Linked DNA regions of Homo sapiens: all the other regions are reported to be linked to region 1. The links are microRNA targets in miRTarBase. Many come from high-throughput screens and were not tested one by one. Region 1 holds a microRNA gene; each other region holds the end of a gene's coding sequence.

What was found. The annotated mature microRNA hsa-miR-500b-5p reads AAUCCUUGCUACCUGGGU and lies in region 1 at 1,491-1,508, opposite strand. An mRNA with a match to its seed (bases 2 to 7 or 8) in the 3' UTR can be bound and repressed. Matches are read on the target gene's strand: a 7mer-m8 pairs with bases 2 to 8, a 7mer-A1 pairs with bases 2 to 7 and ends in A, and an 8mer does both.
Region 2: miRTarBase lists POLR3G as a target of hsa-miR-500b-5p. Seed matches in the 3' UTR shown: 7mer-m8 at 546-552.
Region 3: the mRNA of HHIPL1 is a reported target of hsa-miR-500b-5p. The part of its 3' UTR that is shown has no 7-base or 8-base seed match.
Region 4: miRTarBase lists IKZF5 as a target of hsa-miR-500b-5p. Seed matches in the 3' UTR shown: 7mer-A1 at 1,713-1,719.

Annotation. Positions count from the first base shown.
Region 1 is chrX:50,008,954-50,012,189 of GRCh38, reverse strand. It overlaps MIR500B (microRNA 500b), which reads right to left and starts at 1,518; the gene lies at 1,440-1,518. The region is part of intron 3 of CLCN5 (chloride voltage-gated channel 5); the gene reads right to left. MIR501 (microRNA 501) reads right to left here and starts at 2,468; the gene lies at 2,385-2,468. It overlaps MIR362 (microRNA 362), which reads right to left and starts at 3,226; the gene lies at 3,162-3,226.
Region 2 is chr5:90,511,630-90,514,629 of GRCh38, reverse strand. It overlaps POLR3G (RNA polymerase III subunit G), which reads right to left. Exons shown (of 8, transcript NM_006467.3): 8 at 73-2,577. The coding sequence ends at 2,491. Among named protein-coding and RNA genes, the nearest start is that of LYSMD3, 16 kb to the left of the region's middle.
Region 3 is chr14:99,675,144-99,678,379 of GRCh38, reverse strand. HHIPL1 (HHIP like 1) reads right to left here. Exons shown (of 9, transcript NM_001127258.3): 9 at 1-3,236. The coding sequence ends at 2,754. Among named protein-coding and RNA genes, the nearest start is that of CYP46A1, 7.5 kb to the left of the region's middle. RefSeq lists enhancers at 1,034-1,596, 1,597-2,160, 2,724-3,236.
Region 4 is chr10:122,991,345-122,994,344 of GRCh38, reverse strand. IKZF5 (IKAROS family zinc finger 5) reads left to right here. Exons shown (of 5, transcript NM_001372123.1): 5 at 1-3,000. The coding sequence ends at 565. Among named protein-coding and RNA genes, the nearest start is that of PSTK, 12 kb to the right of the region's middle.

The DNA of each region.
Region 1 (3,236 bases):
GTTGGAGAGGGGATGATGGGAAGACTCACTCTCTGCTACATACGTATGCATGAACAATGTGGGCAACGGAAGTTCCTTCTCTTAAACATGCTCACTAGGCATGTGAGTATGAGTTCTGTGTCTTTCTTGACCACCCTGTCTCTCCATGTCTGGTGCATGACAGGAGCGCCACCCCTGCTTGTTAAAGGTGGGAATGAATGAAGGATGGGGATTATAAACAGGTGTTCTTCGCTCTATGCAGAAAAGGCTCAGCCGTGGAATGCTTGCCTGGGTGCACCGCATTGACACAGCACTTGCATCCAGGTACCAGGATTCAAGAGGGGGAACAGGACTGAAGGCCCAAGCAGCCATACAGAGTATGTGTGTGTGCACGTGTGCGTGTGTGCACATGTGCTCACATGGGTTTACAGGGAAGGCTCACCGCATATAGTGTGTTCATCTGTGACTGTACAGAAAAGTAATGAAAGGATCTCTCCTATACAGAGCAGCAAGAAGGAAAGTAGCAGTAAGAAGACTTCCCTCATTTAATCCCCATCTATAAGGGAGTTAAGGAAGCTCACTGGCTTGCACGCTGAGAATGGGAGAGAGGAGAGCACAACAGGCTCCATCTCCTACCCTTTCAGTAGGTGGGGTTCTCTGCATGCAGGGCCATGTCTCTGAGTGTGTCTGGTGTACAAGGATTGGGGACATTTGAGAATTTCACTTGAGCAGAACCTGCACATGCTTGTGCATGCAGACTGGGTAACAAGGAACATATAGATCTACTTCATTCTTTTGAACAGTGGCCTATTCATCCACAACATTTATGTATAGTGTGTTTATGAGTCCCTACCAGAATGTAGGGTAGCAACCTGTCCATTTTGATCCCTGCTATATCCTTGGTGATGAACATAATACCTGCTGTCTAATAGACACTTGAGTATCTGTGGAAGGAAGAGGAGGGAGAGTTGATGTGCAAAAGCTCTGTCCTTTTAAGTGTAGACAAGGCTTCTTCCCTTGGAATTCTTGAAAAGGGACAGTGAGTCAAGGCAGTACTGGCACACAGGCTGAAAGAATGTGAGTGATGCACCAGGTCAGAGGGACCACTCTGTGAGGACATGTCTCTGTGGATGTAACCAAGTCAGGCCCTTTCTCTTGCACACAGCGTATTTATGTGTGATTGTACTGAGGTTTAGTAGATTCTCCAACATGTATCTGTACCCCACCCACCCTGTACCCCACCCACCCTCAGGACATGCAGATATAATGAATGAGAAGGAGTCCATTCTCCTCCCTGAACTGTACACTCCATGAAGGTAGGGAACCAGATATGGCTCATTCTCTTGTGGGCCAACTGCCCAGGACAGCACCTGCAATAGAGTAGGTAGGTACTCAACAAATAGTCATAGAAAGGATGGAAGGAGGAGGTAGAAGTGCTCTGTCCTATGCGAAGATGTCACTCCCCCTTGCAGAATCCTTGCCTGGGTGCACTGCATTCAGAAAGCACTCTCACCCAGGTAGCAAGGATTAGAGAGGGGGAACCAGGACAGGAGATTCCAGTACCTGTACACCTCACATGTGCATCTAACAAGAAGGCTTGCTGTTCTTGCCTAGTGCATTAACCTTGCATTGAACTAAAGTAGAGAGAAGTTGCTTCGACAAGTATCAGGCTGGGTGCAGTGGCTCACACCTATAATCCCAACACTTTGGGAGGCTAAGGCTGGTGGACTGCTTGAGCCTAGGAGTTTGAGACCAGCTTGGGCAACATAGTGAGACCCCATCTCTACAAAAAATAAACACAAATTAGCCAGGCATGGTGGCACAAGCCTGTGGTCCCAGCTATTTGAGAGGCTGAGGTGGGAGGATCGCTTGAGCCCAGGTGGTTGAGGCTGCAGTGAACTGTGATGGTGCCAGTGCACTCCAGCCTGAGCAACAGAGCAATACTCCATCAAAAAAGAAAGAAAAGAAAAGAGAGAAGAAAAGAAAGGAAAGGAAAGGAAGGAAAGAAAGAAAAGAAAGAGAAAGAAAAAGAAAAGAAGGAAGGAAGGAAAGAAGGAAAAAACAAGAAACAAGTATCAATGTGACAGCAGGAATGAGAAGACTCACACTTATGGGTGGGTTAAGGTGGGAAGAGGGTAGATAAGAAGTTCCTATGTGGCCCACTCACCCTCAGTATATGCAGGGGCAATGAGTGGTGACAAAGTCCATTCTCCTCTCAGGCTATAATATCCAGGAAGGCAGGGGCGAAGTCTGCCTTGTTCATTTCTCTGTGTCCAATGCCCATCATGGTGCCCAATACATATTATTTGTGGAAGGAAAGAATGAATGAGGGTCAGAGAGCAGGCAGGCAAGCAGCAAGCAGCTGAGAGGTGACATACAGATCTTCTGTTCTCCACGCAGAGGGGGCTCACCCTCTCAGAATCCTTGCCCGGGTGCATTGCATTCAGAAAGCACTCTCACCCAGGGACAAAGGATTAGAGAGGAAGAGCAGAGCAGAAGACTCAGGCACCTGCACCCTGCATGTATATCTCCATATATATTTGACTTTCATGGTCCCATTCCTGCAAAGTATCTCTGTGTGCATTTGCTAAGACAGATGCCTCTCCTCAGGGATAGCATATGTATTCATCCCCCTGCACAAGGCCACATGGACATGCCCTCTCAGACAAAACCTCAGACTAGAATGAAAGATATGAGTGGCATCTTTTTCAGATCACACTTGAGGGTCTGCAGGTGCTGGATGTATTTGGGGCCTAGCAAGGAGGTTGGGACAAACTGTATGTGGGCACACATGTACATGCACATGTTGGAAGATGGTACAGAAAATTGGGATACTTCATTCTCTTCTGTTTCTCTGGTAAACTATAAGCTCACTGAGAGCAAAGACTGGCTGTGCAAGTCTCATCACCCAATGTGTGTTTCCCCATTACAGTATCTGACACATAGTAAGCTGGGAGTAAACAGAAAGCTCATGCTCTCAAAGAGGTGTAAGCTTGTCCAGGGCAATGATGAAGTTCATTCTCCCACAGGTGCCCTCTACAGAGCCCAGGGACCTTAGCTGTCTTATTTACCGTTGTATCTCCACCACCCAGTGCAGGATCTGGCACCGCATAGCAAACACAAACATGTGAAAGAAGGGGACAGGTTGTTGGTCCTTCTACATGTAGACAAGGCTCAGCCTCTTTGAATCCTTGAATAGGTGTGTTGCACTGAAATAGCACTCACACCTAGGTTCCAAGGATTCAAGAGGGGGAGCA
Region 2 (3,000 bases), not on the chromosome of region 1:
GTAGCTGGGACTATAGGCACAGACCAGCATGCCCATCTCACAACAACTTTTTTGAATAATCATTAACCAGAGTTTTGTTGTTTGTGGTGATTGTTTATTCAAGAATATTTGGAACAAACATCCCTGCTTAATAGTTACTAGTTAAGATCTATATTAACAAATTAGTTTTCTCTAACAAATAAACATTTAAATAAGTTCAAAATAAAACATCTTACTATAAAACAAACGAACACATTTTGTTTTGTAAGAATTTAATGTGTAAATAAATACAGAAAAACAAGCATTACAGCAACCAGTTTTGCTCATGATAGCAATTTTAAAGACACTTCAACAAATACTTTTATGTAAGAGGCTAATTCTGCAAAATAACATTCACTTTCCTATGGAATAATTTCACAGTCCCAGATTTTAAGCCAGAAAAATGAGACTCATGCTGGTAAAGCAACCTGCAAATCCTGCTTGTTCTTGCAACTAGTATACTTTAACATTGTAAAAGGATCTTTCAAAGGGGGAAAGAAGGCTCTTAACGGTACCTCCCAGAGTAAATCCTTGCCCCAAGGGGCTGCCCTGCTATCTGCAAGACTAAAATGGTCATGACAAATTCAAAGCTAAAAAAAGAAATAACCTTTATCTTCAGTGTATTTGCCTGGTTCAAGTGGTTATCTGCAGATTTATAAGTAGGTAAATAGAACAATATTGATAAGATTTCTGAAAACTAAATTGTATTTGGCTCTGGTACTAAGGAGTTGAGAGAATAAAACACCTATGTTAATTATCAACCGCAAATGACAACTTTTTGTGAGGTTTCTATTCTAAGGCTTACTTTATTCGTGTATTCCATTTAGAATCTTAAAATTTTTTGACAACTTCCTTTAAACAAGAAGTAATTCACAAATGGTTAACACAGCACTAAACTAATAAGATAGGTCCTCACACCCATCTTGAATTATTTAAGAAAGTATTGCCATTGAAACATCTTTTTCCTGAGAAATTCATATTGCAGAATGGCACAAGACAATACACATTTTCTCCAATTTTCTGCATGAATACAAGATAGGAAAATCAGATTACAATATATTTTGTGAGGAAAACATGTTTCTTAAAATTGTGCTTTCAGTTACTCTCCAAACTACAAATTTTTAGAGGGTGAGAGCCAAATGTAAGTTAAGAAGTGATCTTTAAGGCAAGAGAATGAATACATATGGTAAATTTTGGTTGGTGTTTAAACAATTTTTATAGGAAATTGTTTACGAGTGGAGAAACTAAGGCACAGAAACAACCAAGCTCAGGTTCAAGGTTGAGTTTAATAGTATAGGTAGAAATAGAATCTAGGGATCTGATTCTCATATTAGAGGATAATATCTCCCCAAAGGGGAAAAATAAAATTATTTCTTTTGGTAGATAACATTGATAAATCATTTTTGAAATATATAATATGAATTTCCTTGAAAATCTTTGGCATTTCTGAGAGTCTTTGTAGGCTGAGGTTTTTAGGTATTTTTTCCCAAAAAATATATAAAGTTAGGGGAGCTAGCTTTAAAGTTAAACAACAAAAATATTAATATTAATTTCAAAATGACCTGAGTTCATTTTGCATTTTTATATAAATCAATTGTACACTTGAGTACTCTGAAACATAAAAGGCCACCACACTTCACTTCATAGAGTTCACACACATGCATTCTACATATTTATATGACCAGAACTTATTTCACATTTACATAAAGTATAAAATAAAATGTCTTAGTCAAATTTTTCATAAGCCCAACTATTTGAAGATGTCAGTTATTACAGTGGGATGATTAATTCATATACAGTATTAAGTCTCAAATTCAAGTATTATAATATTCACCCCATGTGAAAGTTTCTTTGTACTGGCTAAGATGTGAGCTGTGAAATTTATATTGCTCAGTTTGGTATTTTTCCCTATGTGTATGTTTTCCATCACAAAACCTCTGTCTCACAATTCTGTACTTGTAAGAGCTCAGGTAGGTTTATGTAGTCATAATGCAGTAGTCTAGAACACACCATGTAAAGGTAAAAAATAAAATTATTTTCAAGTTTCTTTGTTTTTAAAGTGCTCCACGTGCTGTATTATATCAACTTTCAGGTTATAGAAATCCATTATGACTAGCAATAGTTTTACAAAAGATCAGCAGTTAAGCAAGAATGATTTGTTCAAGTATGTATACATAGATTAAGAGAGCAAAAATTCTTTAGGCACATTCATATTCAAATCATACAAAAAAACCCATGAGAGTACATAAGAGAGATGGCAGAGGTGTTTAGAAGGAATGTCAGAGTGTCAGGGAATAATTTTTAAGGTAACTAGTATGTAAACTCAAAGTGGTTTTGAATATTTTGGTAACAACTATTTGTCCAAAACAACAGAAACAAGTACTTATTCCTTATCAGAAATAAAATACAAATCAAGTCTGTCCAAATGTTCAGAAGCTGCATCATAAAAATATTTTTTGAAAAATTTCATGCCTAATAGGTTGCCTCATCCATGTTGTCATCACTGTCTGCGCCAAAATCATCTCCATCTTCAAAGTATGAATTAATGTAGTCATTTTCCTAAGTGAAATGATATATTCCTTTGTAAACGTTAAAATGAATGAGTAGTAAGAAAATATTCCAGGCCTAAAAGTCTCTGCTTTTTATCTGCTTCAAAAACACAACAGTTTTCACTTGTGTTTACCTGTGCCGCTTTCTTCCTTAAGACCACCACCTTCCACTCTTGTCAGGCACTAACTAGCTAAGAGAACATGAAGGGTTGCCCATACCATCTCAATAGGATAATATAGCTACTAACACATTACAGCTTACTGGGATGATACATAGTTTAGTTAGCTAAACCACTAAACACTTACCCAAAAAATGCACAGACAAGAAAAAAAGCCAGTTTACATTAACATCCATTAGACTACACCAGTACTGAGATTTTTAGTCATAAAACATAACTAAGCATAAGCCAGAAAGACTTTTACTTCCTATTAA
Region 3 (3,236 bases), not on the chromosome of region 1:
GTTTTAGTGCTATTTCTTTCCAGCATCGGGGAACAAGTATTTACATATAACAGCTGTCCACTCTTATTACTACCTAGGGCAGAGGTCTCCAAACCCTGGGCCACGGACCAGTACTGATGGGTGGCCTGTTAGGAACCGGGCCACACAGCAGGAGGTGAGTGGCAGTGGGGCAGGGTAGTGTGGGGAGCAAGCATTCCCACCTGAGCTCTGCCTCCTGCCAGATCAGCAGTGGCATTAGATCCGCATAGGAACATGAAACCTACTATGAACTGTGCATGCGAGGGATCTAGGCTGTGAACTCCTTATGAGAATCTAATGCCTGATGATCTGAGGTGGGACATTTCATCCCAAAACCATCCCCCCAACCCCCATCCATGGAAAAATTGTCTTACATGAAACCAGTCCATGATGCCAAAAAGGTTGGGGACCACTGACCTGGGGACTGTGGAGTGAGTCCCCAGGAGGCAGGCTGCAGCCTAGCCCAGGCCTGGTTTGGGGCCTGAGAGGTGATGAGTTGGAGGCTGGGGAGGAAGAGCGCCTGGCCTGGAAGACTGAAGGCCAAAGCCCGAACTGCCCAGAGAAGTACTGGAGGGCCTGAGGCCGCACCCAGAGCTCCCTTTGCCAACCCTCCTAATCCAGCTCTGAGCAAAACAGCTTCTGGGGCCAGGCAAGCAGGGCCCTGGCTCGGCTGCATTCTTGAGGGCCTCAAGGCTTGCTGCACCTTCCCTGGCTCCAGTCTCAGCGTGGCCTCATCTGGCAACAGGCCTGGGACACTCAGCCTCCCTGAGCTCACTTCCTCATCTGCACAGTGAGGAATTCGGCTGGGATGGTCATTAACGGCCTGCTATCTCCTAACACGCCCGGCGTCAGAGCTCAGAACTCCCCTGCATCCCAGGAAGATGCCCACTCAACCTCCCCTGGGCCACTGGAGGCCCGAGAGGAGCATGAGGCCAGCAGCGGGGGCACCTGCCAGGCAAGAGGAGCCCCCAGGGATCTCCATCAGCTGCTTCCCAGCCAGGCTGGCACTCCCACACCAGGCAGGAGCCCCAGCACACCGCTCTCTGCAGGCATAGTGTAGCTGGGGAGGGCAGTGGTTAGGGTGCGGGGACTCTAAACTAAGCTGCTGTATTCAAACTTGACTTCTCCCTTCCCTGGCTTGGTGCCCTAAGATATCTAACCTCTGTGTGCCTCAGTTTCCCATTCTGTAAAGCACAGAGTATGAGGAGTCCAAGACAGTGACCTAAAGCTTTCTGCTGCAGCCCAGGATCCTATACTAGTGGCTAGGAGACCCTATACTAGCAGCTAGGAGACCCTGCCAGACTCATGCCTGCCCCAAGGCCTGCCCAGCCACCCCTGGTGCCAGCTCCCAGAACTTGGCACAGCATCACCCCCTCCCAAAGCCCCCCCATAGGTTGGGTTTGGGTGCCCCACCCAGACCTCTTCCAACCCCCGACATGGGCCACATCCTGTCTTCACTGCCTGGTGACTCATCTGCTTACCCACCCCCCACCCGTGCTCCCATCCGAGGCTGAGCGCAGTCATACTAAGTGCCCCTCTGCGGCCTGGCACAGAGCCAGGGCCGAGCATCCCTGGAGTGAAGGAGCTTCCACCTGTGATGCAGGTGGGAAGCGGGAGGCCTCACCCCTTTCTCCTGGTTCCCACCCCGGCTCCCACACAGGTGCAGGTCAGAGAGGAGGCAGGAAAGTGGTGTGTAAACAGCCACATTATTGGCATAGCCCTGGGTGAAAAAGTGTCAGTAGTTTCACTGGACCCCCAGCCTGGTCAGCCCCGAGGTAGGGCTGGAGGAATCAGGTCTCCTGGGTTTACACTGAGCAGGGATGGGGATGGAAAGGACAGAGGTGGCCCCAGGGCCCAAACACAGCTTTGAAAGTAGTGGAGGCCCACCGACTCACTGGAGGGCCAGGGTGAAAGCTCTGCCCAGCTAGTGTGGGTGGCTTCTGCCCCAAGAGCAAGAGAGAATCAGGCCTCAGGGTTGGAGGAGGCTGGTCCCATCCCAGGAGCACCCACAAGGACTGAGTATGCTGCTGAGTGGCTTCTCCAGCATACGGCCTTGGAGGTCATCCAGTCCTCACAGCCATCCTCCCTGAGCAGGTGCTGGCTCCTCCACGCAGCCTGCCCCTCCAGTGGGGCCCCAGGCCTGCAGCTCACCCTGCTCCCACCTTCCAGAAGGCTTTCCCTTCCCCACTGGATGCCTTCCGGTTCTCTCCAGCGCCTCTGACTGCCAGGGGGTGGGGGGGATGCGGGCACCAGGCCATGCTGTCCGGGCCACATTCCTCAGGCCACCCTCCGGCTGTTCTTGCACCTTCCATTCCAGCTGTGGGCAGGACAAGCCTGGTTCTCCCCACCGCCCTCAGTCTGCAAGCTGTGCCTCTGTTAGCACAGCCAGGGGCCATGTCCGTCCTCGAAGCCTGGCTGCCCTCCCTCCTCAGGGTCCCACAGCCCGGCTGCTGTTCCTGCTGGTGTCTGAAACGCTTGGAGGTAAGAAAGGAACTCCTCCCGCCCATGATGGACCATGCACTTCCAGAGCCCACACCGCCCCCAACACACACTCCTGCCTTGGGTCTGCAGAGGACACACATGCACTGCAGCGCCTCACACATGTCCCCAGGACAGCACACACCCGCACCCCCTTCACTCTAGAACACGTGTGCACCCGCTGGGCGCACACAGGGCGGAGCGGCCCCTGCCAGGCTCCCCCGCCGGCGGGATGGCCTGGGGCAGCGGCGTGTTGCCTACAGGTCGGGGTTCTGGTGGCTGCACACGACGCCCGCATCCTCGTCGTGCTCGCAGTTGTGGGTGCCCACGCCGTTGTGCTGGCACTCCAGCAGGTTCCGCTCCCAGCCCGCGCAGCGCACATCGTCCAGCAGAATGGGCAGCGAGCCGCCCTGGCCGAACTCGGCTCTCTTGACGGCGCGCACGGCGTAGGCAAACCCCAGCTGGCGACACACGACGGCGGCGCCGCTGATGTTCCAGGAGTCGTCGCACACGGTGCCCCAGCGTCCGCCCACGAACACCTCCACGCGCCCGCTGCCAGAGCTCAGGCCCGCGGGCCGCACCAGGCGCACCTCGCCATCCCGGAACGCCCGGCTCGCCGAGTTCAGCCGCCCCCGCCGCCGCCCGCCGCCCCTCCGGCTCCCTGGCTGCTGGGTGGGCCGCGCTGGCCGCGGGGTTGGCGCGGGGGGAGCGGCCGTGGGGCGCCCTCGGCGGGGCGCCCG
Region 4 (3,000 bases), not on the chromosome of region 1:
AACCACACCAACTGGTGGCCTTCCAAGGGACCCCCAAGAACTCATGGTTGATAACCCTTTGAATCAGCTCTCGACTCTAGCAGGGCAGTTGTCCAGTCTGCCACCCGAAAACCAAAACCCTGCATCCCCTGATGTAGTTCCCTGCCCTGATGAAAAGCCTTTCATGATTCAGCAGCCCTCTACCCAAGCAGTAGTTTCTGCCGTATCAGCAAGTATTCCTCAGAGCTCCTCTCCCACAAGCCCAGAACCTCGGCCATCCCATAGTCAAAGGAACTATAGTCCAGTGGCAGGTCCAAGCAGTGAGCCAAGTGCCCACACGAGCACTCCCAGCATAGGAAACAGCCAGCCAAGCACCCCAGCCCCAGCCCTGCCGGTCCAGGACCCTCAGCTTCTGCACCACTGCCAGCACTGTGATATGTACTTTGCAGACAACATCCTTTACACTATTCATATGGGATGTCATGGGTATGAAAATCCTTTTCAGTGTAATATATGTGGATGCAAATGTAAAAACAAGTATGATTTTGCCTGTCATTTTGCAAGAGGGCAACATAACCAACATTGATTGAAAATAGTCATATTTTACTTAGTTTTGCTGTTTTTGTGGTTTGGTTTTTTTTGTTTTTTGTTTTGGTCATCCCTAATAAAGTGTCTGCTAATTCAAGGCTTATACATTATATTTATAGAATATAAATTTGTCAGTGGAATAAAATTTCCCCTTTTTTTCATAAAAATCTGGTCAGGGTCATTTATATATTAGAACAGTTAGACACATTGGTGTCTCTTTTTTCCTTTCCTTTCGACATTGGAGAATTGGAGTGCAGTCATAATCTTACAAGATGTTCATTTGAATTTCTCACATTTATGGTCCATAAAAACTTCAAGGCTTATCCATACTTTTGATGTTTCAATATGCATTGAACTGGATGTTATTTCTGCCATATTTCAAAATGGTAGAATAAATTACAGAATTTATTACTACTCATTTCAGTGTTTAGTACAGAAATTGCCTTAAAAATTGCTATTAATTGAAATATCATTTAGTTCACATTCCTTAAGTTGAATCGGTAGTTTCATTTCAACTGATAATAGTAAAGCTATTTCAGTTTAGTAAAAATTTTCTTTTTTCCACAAGAGGAAATGTAAAACAGTTAAGACTTGAAATTGAAAATTCTTTTAATATTTAAAATAACTTGTTTATTCAATGTCTAAACACATGTCAGTTTTCCACTGGATTTTTATTTTCACAGGTAAATACACTAGAGTGCTAGATGCCTTTTTCCCCTGTCAGTTTGACTTTCATTTAAATCCTTCATTCTGATATCATTACTGTTAGGTGAGGTGGATAACTATAATGAGAATCTCTTATTCTTCCTATTCCTTTGATGACCAAAGAGATAAAGTGAAGTCATCCTTATTATTAAAATGCAGCCTCCAAACAAATTTCTCAAGATTCCTTTTCCTTCCTTCTATCCATTTTCTGCCCATAATTTCCAAGAAAAGGTGGGTATGGAAACACATGAGAGAATGTGATAGTGAAGTCATATTTACAAAACTGAGAACATGTCCAAAATGGATTCTTGTCTCCTCTTCAGAATTAGCCATTTAAAATATTTTCTGTGACTTCAAATTGTAATTCTTATTTGCAGTTTTACCAGTCTTCATGTACAGTGACGAAACTGTGTAGAAACTAAATCATCGCTTTAGTAAGAAAGGATAAAAAGGTGTGGAAGTGAATATAAAATGCATCTAAACATGACATTTAATTTGTTTATAAAAATAAGACTTACTAAATATAGAGTAATTCATTTTGAATAGGAGGCTATTGTTTTTATATTGTGTAATAACTCACGTACTCTGAAGAGAGCTTGGTCAAACAATAAAATACATTGTTACTAACTTGGTTTCTTTTCTGTGTACTTTGCAAAAATTCTATTTTTAATTTTGTTCATATGTTGAATGTGCCCCTAATTGGCATCTTAAAGAGAATAGTAAGCATCTATTAACCAAAAAAGAACTCTAATAGTAAAGGAAAGGGAAATATTGGTGGTATGTACCCACAAAACCCCCAAGTGCCAAGTTAATGGAATCTCTGCTTTCCCTTTCAGATGCTAGAAAGCCACTGTAATGAGTTCTTGCAGTTTAGCATCCAGTCTAAGCTACTGCATTGTTTAAAGAGCAGCATCAAGGACACTTTCTCCAAACTGGAACTCTCTTCTTTGTCAAATCTTGTACTTTAAAATTCTACAATTCTGTTACATTGTTGTTTAAATCACAGACTGCTCAGATCCATTTTACTGCAGTAGTTTCCAAGTGTGTAACTTGGCTTTAGTATTTATCAGTTGCCAGAAAGAAACAGGTTGTCATTTGGAAGTTTTTGTGGTTATTTTTTCCCATTTTTATTCTTCAGATAAAAGCAGTACCCCAAAATAGAAAATGAAAATTTTCATGAAACAAAGAGAACTCCCTTGTTAAAACCAGCTTATTAACTCTGTATTCTGTCAAATGCATTTTTTTCTAACAACTGACCATGGATGTTGTGAAGGTGCATTTTAATTTAAACATGGAAAAGATTTTTTTCATAATTACATACTAGAATGTAAAATTATAATTTTGCCATGACTTAAAGAGCACAGTTGATATCCCAAAGGTTTTGATGCTAAGAAGCTACAGTTATTCTAAATGCACTAAAATGTTTGAGGCAAATCTACCTTAGAGGCTTTTTTGGTATGGTATTTTTTAAAATATTTAGATTTTATTTAAATTTCCTGTGAGTTATTCTGTATTTGAAAAGATGTTCGTGTCTTCCCCTCTGTATTGAATGTTTCACTCATTTTATTTTTAATCAAATATTTTATAGAAATGAGTTGTTGGGAAGAGTTTAACATGCACTATTTATAGTACTTTGCCGTTAACAGGCAATGTTCTGAAACTAAATTTATTTTTGTTCAGTGAACATAAGTTTAGATTTTTAAAGTTGGTAGATAATTTATCTCCACT